Linked DNA regions of Homo sapiens: all the other regions are linked to region 1. Evidence: fine-mapped expression QTL. A gene starts in region 1. Each other region holds a variant in brackets. All regions are shown on one strand. Distances are from middle to middle. Region 1 holds the start of ZNF597 (zinc finger protein 597). Region 2 holds the start of ZSCAN32 (zinc finger and SCAN domain containing 32). Region 3 has its middle 12 kb from the start of ZNF174.

Region 1 (2,844 bases):
AAAAGAAAAGGAGAAAGTTGGGCAGCCCAGGAAGAATCATAAAGAGATAAAGGTTACAGGATTCTCCCAACATCCTTCCCTTTGCTATTTCCTCTCGTCCCCATGACACTCATTGCTAAGCTCACTCCAGCACTTCATCCAGGCCTACCCCACCTTCTCTAACGGTGTGATAAATTAATCACTTGGGATTTATTATTACTCAACGAGTGTGGAGTCTAGAAATGTGCTTAATTTAAAAATTCATTCAAATTGGAGAAGTACCAAATCTGTAATTTTGGGAACCATTCCAGAAAGTCACTTTTAATCCTAGCACTTTGGGGAGCCGAGGTGGGAGGATAGCTGAAGGCCAGGAGTTCCTTGGCAAAGCAGCAAGACTCCATCTCCATAAAGAAGTTTTAGGCCGGGCGCAGTGGCTCACACCTGTAATTCCAGCACTTTGGGAGACCGAGGCGGGCGGATCACAAGGTCAGGAGATTGAGACCATCCTGGCTAACACGGTGAAACCCCGTCTCTACTAAAAATACAAAAAATTAGCAGGGCGTGGCGGCAGGCGCCTGTAGTCCCATCTACTCGGGAGGCTGAGGCAGGAGAATGGCATGAACCCGGGAGGCGGAGCTTGCAGTGAGCCGAGATCGCGCCACTGCACTCCAGCCTGGGCGACAGAGCGAGACTCTGTATCAAAAAAAAAAAAAAAAGAACTTTTAAAAGTAGCCAGACACTGTGGTATGCGCGCCTCTCAGATACTCGAGAGGCTGAGGCGTAAGGATTCCCTGAGTTCCAGACGGAGCTATGATATCAGCACTGCACTCCAGCCAGACAAGCAACACTCCAGCGACAAGGCCAGACCCTATCTCCAAACAAAACAAAACAAACAGATAAGACATTGAGAAACTCTCTCAGAGATTCCTCCACAGGTCCCTGCTCCCAGTTGGTAGTTCTGAAAGAAGGAAGTTGGTAAACCATTATGTGTGTGGTCTTGGAACGAAGAACACTTGGTCAAAGGGCTATTTGGGGCTCAGGAGCACTCCTACCACAACAGGCATGCCCAACTCTCCTCCAAAGGAGGGGGTCAGGCAGAGACCGAAAGCAGCAATAAACTTGGACGAAAAAGGTACCTCGACTCACCTGGGCCTCGGGCGTCGGGGGCATGGACGCCATTTGGCGGGTGGGGAATGCCTTCTTCAAGACGCCACAGGGACTTCGTGACAAAGCTGCGGGGGGAGAGAACAGTTCTTAAAGGGACCAATTCCGCTGCCAAGTTCCTCCACTACCCCTAGCCTCCCTCGATTCCCTCCGAACCCCCCCTTAAAAACCTACGCCGACTGCTCCTCCTCTTGGCCCGGCCTCGAAAGGGGCCCACTTACCGCTCCGCGGTTAATAACAGGCCTCGCGCTCCCTGACAGGAGCTGCAGAAAGCGACGCCCGACCGAGACGCGACGAAGAACGCCACGGCCACTGCAAAACTCCCACGCTCTCATGCTCCTTTACGCAGGAGCTGCGGGAAAAGCCGCCGGAAGCGACCCGCCCTCAGCCCTCTCCGCCATCCTGCCCTTTGATTGGTCGAAGTTCTCCCGAAGGGGAAGTCCTTCTTTTGTGTTGACCAATTGAACACCTTAACCGAGGACCTGTAGCCACTGGGCAGCTGCGAGAGGTAGTTTTCCTCCTTTTCTCTAAGCAACCATTTCCGCTTCCGCTGGCGGGGTCTCCTCCGTGAGCTCCGGGCCTGTTTGCCTGCTGAAGTAGAGTCTTAGGGTGACCCCAGGGGGACGTAATGTTTCCGAGAAGAAGGACAGAAAGAAGACTGGGAGACACCGGAACTCGAAAGAAAATCGGTAACAAAATGTGGGTTCGGCCAACAGTGCCCTGTAGGCCTGAAATTTCGGTCTGGCCAGAGCAAGGTGATTGAGAGGGCGGGGGTTCGGGCCTAGCCTGGGCTTGAGCTGTCCTTTGTGTCTTGAGCGGATGGTGGGGCCGTGGAACATGAAGGAGTATCTTTGTGTACGTTCACAACGTTCACATCGGTGTAGGCCAGGTTGCTGGACTCTGACTCAAAGTGTTATAGAGGCATTACGTATTGTACCCGCAGCTGCAGCCTAAGCGAGCTGCTTCAGCTTCCTAGTCACAGGATCCCACGCGAGAATAGAGCCATAGGTTAGCGTCGCAGGACGTTGTTCGCCCCCGGATACCTCACATGCAGCCTACCCTAGAGCCAGTCATTTCCTATTGTGTGCTGGGGGAGGAGGGAGTGCCCTGGTGTAGGCATTTGGAATTGGAAAATTGAGCTCCTCCCCAAGCTCTGCCACTGATTGGTTGGTAATCTTGGCCAGTTTACAACTTTGCTTTCCTCAGCTGCAAACAGCTCAGAGTGCCTCTCTGGGCTAACTCAGAGGGTAATTTCAAAGATTATAAGATAATGTAAGTGAAAGAAATTGCCAGTTTATAAAGGTGTTTGGGGAAAAAAAAAGACGAAAATGATAGGTACCTTGATAGAAAAGCCTGAAAAGTCTCAACATATTTCCTTATTCCAGTGCCAGGCACATTCCTGTATCTAAAAGCTTAATGAATGGCTGCATGGTTATTAAAACAATATTAGGAGATTTGACAACTTAGGTAATGTGATTTTGTGGAATATCTGATAGGATAGTTTCAGCTACAAGTAACAGAAAACCCACCGAAAGGATGTTCAAAGAGCAGTTACAGGTTGGTTAATTCGGTGGCCCAGTGACAACATCAAGGTCCCAGTGCTTCTCTGCCACCCTAAGCATGTTGGTAACGTTGACAATAGAATCCAGGTAAAATATACAGACATGTATTGTGTCATGTACCCATCCTAAACTAGTTATT
Region 2 (2,500 bases), 43 kb before region 1:
AGTCCCTCTCATTGGTTCTGGTGGGGATATTAATTACAATACCCACTTCCCCAGAAGTGGGCATATGACACACAGCTAGGCCTATCAAAATTCTTTTCTCAGATTTTACATGAGAGGTAGGGAAAGCTCTTCATTTTCTAGGAATTGGTAAATTGGGCAAATGTAAGATCAGAGTTGTCTCCAACTATGTCCCACTCTCTACTCCACTCTTCCATCACAGGAGTGAGCCTGTTTACAAGAGGACAATATACTCAAGTCTTGACAACATGTTTGGATCTCCAAGGCCAGTTTATGTAAGGCAATATTTTTTTAAGAGTTAATTTTAAAAATAGTTTTATATAATTTAAAATTAATAAATAACTTTTAAAAATAATTTTATTTGTTTTTTTATCTTTAGAGATGGAGTCTCACTCTGTTGCCCAGGCTGGTCTCAAACTCCTGAACTCAAGCAATCCTCCCACCTCAACCTCCCAAAGTGTTAGGATTACAAGTATAAGCCACCATGCCCGACCTTAAAAATAATTTTAAATAGAAGCTAACTTTTGTATTTTTTGTAGAGGTGGAGTTTCACTATGTTGCCCAGGCTGGTCTCAAACTCCTGTGCTCAAGTGATCCTCCCACCTTGGCCTCCCAAAGTGCTGGGATTACAGGTGTGAGCCACTGCACCCGCGAAGGCAGTCTTTTTTAATGAGTTTGTGTTGGTTTTTATCTACTTAAAACACAGATTAAAGCAGATCGTAATTTACATTTTCTCCAGGGGCTGATACACCCTCACCATGTGGTATTAAAATGGATCCAGCATGCACAACAAGATGAATATACTCAGGACTACTGAGCTGTACACTTAAAAATGGTTATGATGGTAAATGTTTTTTAAAAATTAAAGAAATTTTTTTATATTTTAAAAATGGATTTGGGTTCCCTTTTCTCAAGGAACTTGAACTGCCTTCACTTAAATTCTCTTTACATTTCAGTGCTTCTAGAGATAGAGAAATCAAGGGCATTATTATTGTTAGCACTGCTTTCTAGCCAAAAAGAAACTGAGAGCGATGAAGTATCTTGCCTAAAGCATCACACAGCACAGCTCCTAGGCAGCAAGGCCAGGACTAGAACCAGCACCCCTTGCCTTCATTATGTTCATCCTGTGCCTTACCTGGCTGAAGAA[G/T]AATTTAATAAAAGCTCTTCTAACTTCATGCAGAAGGCGGAACCTGCACCCTTCTTGACCCCTTTTGACCCCTTACCTCCCACTCATCGTTAAATTTTAAAATGCTGTTCTCTGAAAATTTTACTTCACTCTAGCGATGGCCCAAACACTCGGAAAAAAATGTAGCATGAGGATGGGGAGCCAGGTTGATAGGTTTTTCACTTAGTTAACTATTTATTGAGTACTCAGAACGCACTCGGTGCCAGGGCTAGGCACTGTGGATGAGTAGGGAGTGGGCGAGACAGGGACGAGATGAGCAGGGTCAAGGCCAGGGGGTCCCGGGGCGCCGGCGCTCAGGCTCGGGGTGATCCGCACGGTGGGAGCGGGGCACGGTGATCGCGGCGCGTCTGGGGACGCCCGGCCTGAGGGAGGCTGCCTGTCCCAAGGAGACGCCCATCGGGGCCGGACCCGAACGCCTCGGAGAAGACTCCCAGCGGGGAGGGGCTCCTCGGCCGTCGCAGGGCCCAGCGGCTAATCCCGCCGGCCGCAAGGAAGCGGAGAACTCACCGGACACCAGCACTCGCGACTCCACAAACTCCCTCAGCCTCCGGGCCGGAAGTCAGCGGCGCGATTCGCTCCGCCCATTACGCACGCCCCTGCGCAGGCCCGCAAGCCGAATTGCCGGACTGCAGCTCCCGGGATGCACTGCGACGGTATTGACAGGCGCAGCAACCAATAGACGGTAGAGAATGCCCTTGGCAGGAGGCGGGCCCTGTCAGTAGTTGTCCTCAGCAGCTAGTGGGCGTCTCCGCAGCGAGTGGCATCGGCCCCGCCCCCAGCCCGTGCTCGCCGGTGTCGGGTCCTAAGTCCCTCGGTCTTGGGTTCCCGGAGAGGTGAGTCGGCTGCAGGTGGGTGCGGGGCGCCGGGCTGTTCGGGGTACCGGTGTCGCAGTCGCCAGTCCGAGCTCACACCGGGCGTGGAGTTCAGCTGCGCATCGGGTTGCGGCAGCTTCGCCAGGCCTGGGGCTGGCTGGGCCGCGGGGCCGCCCTGGAGGCCGGAGCCACTGGGCCTGCGGCGCCTCGGCAGCGAGCAGCCGCTTTGCTCGCGTGCAGGAGGCTGTTCGCTACCTCACACCCCCGGCTGGCGCTGTGGCCTCGCTTAGCTCTACCGTTTAGCACCCGGCGACATGCACCCGGTCGGTTTCCGCCAGGATGCGGGAGAGTTGGGGCAAGCTACCTGCGACAGCTTGAACTTTTCCTAGGGATTCCGCTCCACCCGCCGGTTAGAGCGTATTGCTCATTAAATCCGAGACCTGTGTGCTTGCTACTGAAATAAAAGAAGTATTTTTTCCCCAGA
Region 3 (2,844 bases), 30 kb before region 1:
GGCGTGGTGGCTCACACCTGTAATCCCAGCACTTTGGGAGGCCAAGGTTGTGAAAAGTTCACCTGAGGTCAGAAGTTCAAGATCAGCCTGGCCAATATGGTGAAAGCCTGTCTCTACTAAAAATACAAAAATTAACCGGATGTGGTGGTGCACGCCTATAATCCCAGCTACTCGGGAGGCTGAGGCAGAAGAATCACTTGAACATGGGAGGCAGAGGCTGCAGTGGGCCGAGATTGTGCCACTGCACTCCAGCCTGGGCAGCAAGAGTGAAACTTGGACTCAAAAAACAAAAACAAACAAAAAAACACAAAAAGCAAAAAAACCGCCGGGCACGGTGGCTCACGCCTGTAATCCCAGCACTTTGGGAGGCCGAGGTGGGTGGATCACGAGGTCAGAAGATCGAGACCATCCTGGCTAACACAGTGAAACCCCGTCTCTACTAAAAATACAAAAAAAATTAGCTGGGCGTGGTGGCAGGCACCTGTAGTCCCAGCTACTCAGGAGGCTGAGGCAGGAGAGTGGCGTGAACCCAGGAGGTGGAGCTTGCAGTGAGCCGAGTTTGCACCACTGCACTCCAGAGCCTGGGCTACAGAGCAAGACTCCGTCTCAAAAAAAAAAAAAAAAAAAAAAAAAAAAAACCCACAACCTTATCGTTCTAGAGGTCAGAAATCTGAAATTGATTTCACTCAGCCAAAATCAAGCTGTCGGCAAGGCTGGTTCCTCTGAAGGCTCTGAGGGGTGAATCTCTTGCCTTGACTTTTTCAGCTTCTAACAGCCACCCACATCCTTTGGCCTCCACCCTCAAAGTGCATCACTCCAATCTCATTCCACCGCATTCTCCTCTGACTATGACCTTCCTGCTTGCCTTGTATAAGGACCGTTATGATGTTGGGCCCACCGGCATAATCCAGAATAATCTCCCTATCTCAAGATCCTTAACTTAATAACATCTGCAAAGCCCCTTTTGCCATATAAGGTAAACTTAATGGGTTCCAAGTATTAGGATGTGGACACATTTGGGGTGCCATGACTCAACCCACCGCACATATCCATCTTGAATCAAGTTAGTCAAAGAGCATCTCTCCTAAAAGAGAAGGACCATAGATTTCTACTTAATTATAAGGGTTGGGGTCAGGCGCAGTGGCTCACACCTGCAATCCCAGGACTTTGGGAGGCCGAGGCAGGCGGATCATTTGAGGCCAGGAGTTCAAAACCAGCCTGGCCAACATGGTGAAATCCTGTCTGTACCAAAAAAAAAAAAAAAAAAAAGAATTAGCCGCGTGTGGTGGTGTGCGCCTGTAGTCCCAGCTACTCACGAGGCTGAGGCATGAGAATCTCTTGAACCCGGGAGGCGAGGCTGAAGGAAGGTAGAGGTTGCAGTGAGCTGAGATCGCACCATTGCACTCCAGCCTGGGCAACAGACCATCCCCAAGCATAGCCTTCCTTTGGTATAAGGCTCAACTCCAGGCCAAGAGGACCAGGAAGGGTCCAATGGCTACAAGAACCCAAGGTCCTGTACTCAGATGTAAGTTTCCTCTCAGCCCCCGTACCCATGCATGGTCTGCCAGAGGACCTCAGCTGCTCCAATAGATTGTGATTCTCCGTATCCACCAGTCTGTCTCTACAAATTTTGGGGTGGCTGTTTGCCCTGTGACCTCACTTCTCTTACAGAAGAATTGTTGGGTTTTTC[G/T]GGTTGTTCAGCTTTTTATTTGTCATTAGAATGGAGTGACAACTTTCAAGCTCCTTATATTTGCAACCAGAGACTGGAAGTCACAAGAGTGAAACACCGTCTCAAAAAAAAGAAAACAGCAGTGAGACAGTGACTCCCTGACCTCACTGGCTAGATGAATTCCTCTTAAACCTTCTCAAAGCAAAACATGGCTCTACTTGGCTGCAGTTGCCCTCTCAATGCAGATCGCAACGAAACCCTCTCAATGCAGATCTCTGCCTTCCCGCCTCAACACTGCACCCGGGAGCCCTCCTCCAAGGGTCAGTGCCCGATAGGTTTGAGGGCAAGCCCCCGCCAGGGTGAAGCCGCCTCCTCCTCTGGGCCTGGGACGTGCTGGGAGGGAGGGAACGCGGTCCCCCGGGGAGTCACATGCCCCCATTCCCGGGGTCACCCAGGGACAACGGGCAGGAATAGACAGGTAAGGACCCTGCAGCTGAGCGAGCCCTGTGGCCGGATGTTCCAGGTAGGCTTTTCCGGAAATCGCCACCGGAGGATAGAACGCTCCTAGGGTGAGGGGCGGGGCCTCGACAGGAAATACCTGAAAGAGTCCCCTCTGAGTGGGCTGCTTGGCGCCCAGCCCGAGGAATTCTCACCTTCCATTGCCTGGCACAGCTGTCAGGGTGAAGAGGAGGCCGGGCAGCCACGGAGCCCTCTGGGAATTGTGGTTTTCGTGGGCTCCACGTACTGCTGAGCTGTTGCTTGCCTGAGACTGTTGAACCTCAAAGGGTGTCCTGGGGTTCATTCATTAAGCTTGTTCACGCAAATGACAAATATTTATTGACTGTCCACAACACGCCAGGCACCAATAGGGGCTGGAGGCAATATGGTGAACCCGGACGATGCTCATGGTCTCTTAGAAAGCCCAGTCTCCAGGCCGGGCGCGGTGGTTCACGCCTGTAATCCCAGTACTTTGGGAGGCTGAGGTGGGCGGATCACCTGAGGTCAAGAGTTCGAGACCAGCCTGGCCTACATGGTGAAACCTCGTCTCTAACAAAAATATAAAAAAAAAAAAAAAAAAAAAAAAAAAAAAATTAGCTGGGCGTGGTGGCGTGCGCTTATAGTCCCAGCTACTCAGGGAGGCTGAGGCAGGAGAATTGCTTGAACCCAGGAGGCGG

What was found.
Region 2: its variant is fine-mapped to the expression of ZNF597 in blood mononuclear cells (TOPMed, PIP above 0.99).
Region 3: its variant is fine-mapped to the expression of ZNF597 in whole blood (TOPMed, PIP above 0.99).

Annotation. Positions count from the first base shown.
Region 1 is chr16:3,441,996-3,444,839 of GRCh38, forward strand. It overlaps ZNF597 (zinc finger protein 597), which reads right to left and starts at 1,509. Exons shown (of 4, transcript NM_152457.3): 1 at 1,365-1,509; 2 at 1,126-1,211. The coding sequence starts at 1,158. It overlaps NAA60 (N-alpha-acetyltransferase 60, NatF catalytic subunit), which reads left to right and starts at 1,685. Exons shown (of 8, transcript NM_001083601.3): 1 at 1,685-1,842. RefSeq lists an enhancer at 1,769-1,918.
Region 2 is chr16:3,399,234-3,401,733 of GRCh38, forward strand. ZSCAN32 (zinc finger and SCAN domain containing 32) reads right to left here and starts at 1,771. Exons shown (of 7, transcript NM_001284527.2): 1 at 1,712-1,771. It overlaps ZNF174 (zinc finger protein 174), which reads left to right and starts at 1,982. Exons shown (of 3, transcript NM_003450.3): 1 at 1,982-2,500. It overlaps LOC105371059 (a long non-coding RNA gene), which reads left to right. Exons shown (of 4, transcript XR_007064949.1): 3 at 1-293; 4 at 398-436. RefSeq lists silencers at 1,409-1,558, 2,109-2,328 and an enhancer at 1,532-2,031. The variant G/T (reference allele first, on the strand shown) is at 1,166.
Region 3 is chr16:3,411,853-3,414,696 of GRCh38, forward strand. No RefSeq gene overlaps it. Among named protein-coding and RNA genes, the nearest start is that of ZNF174, 12 kb to the left of the region's middle. The variant G/T (reference allele first, on the strand shown) is at 1,691.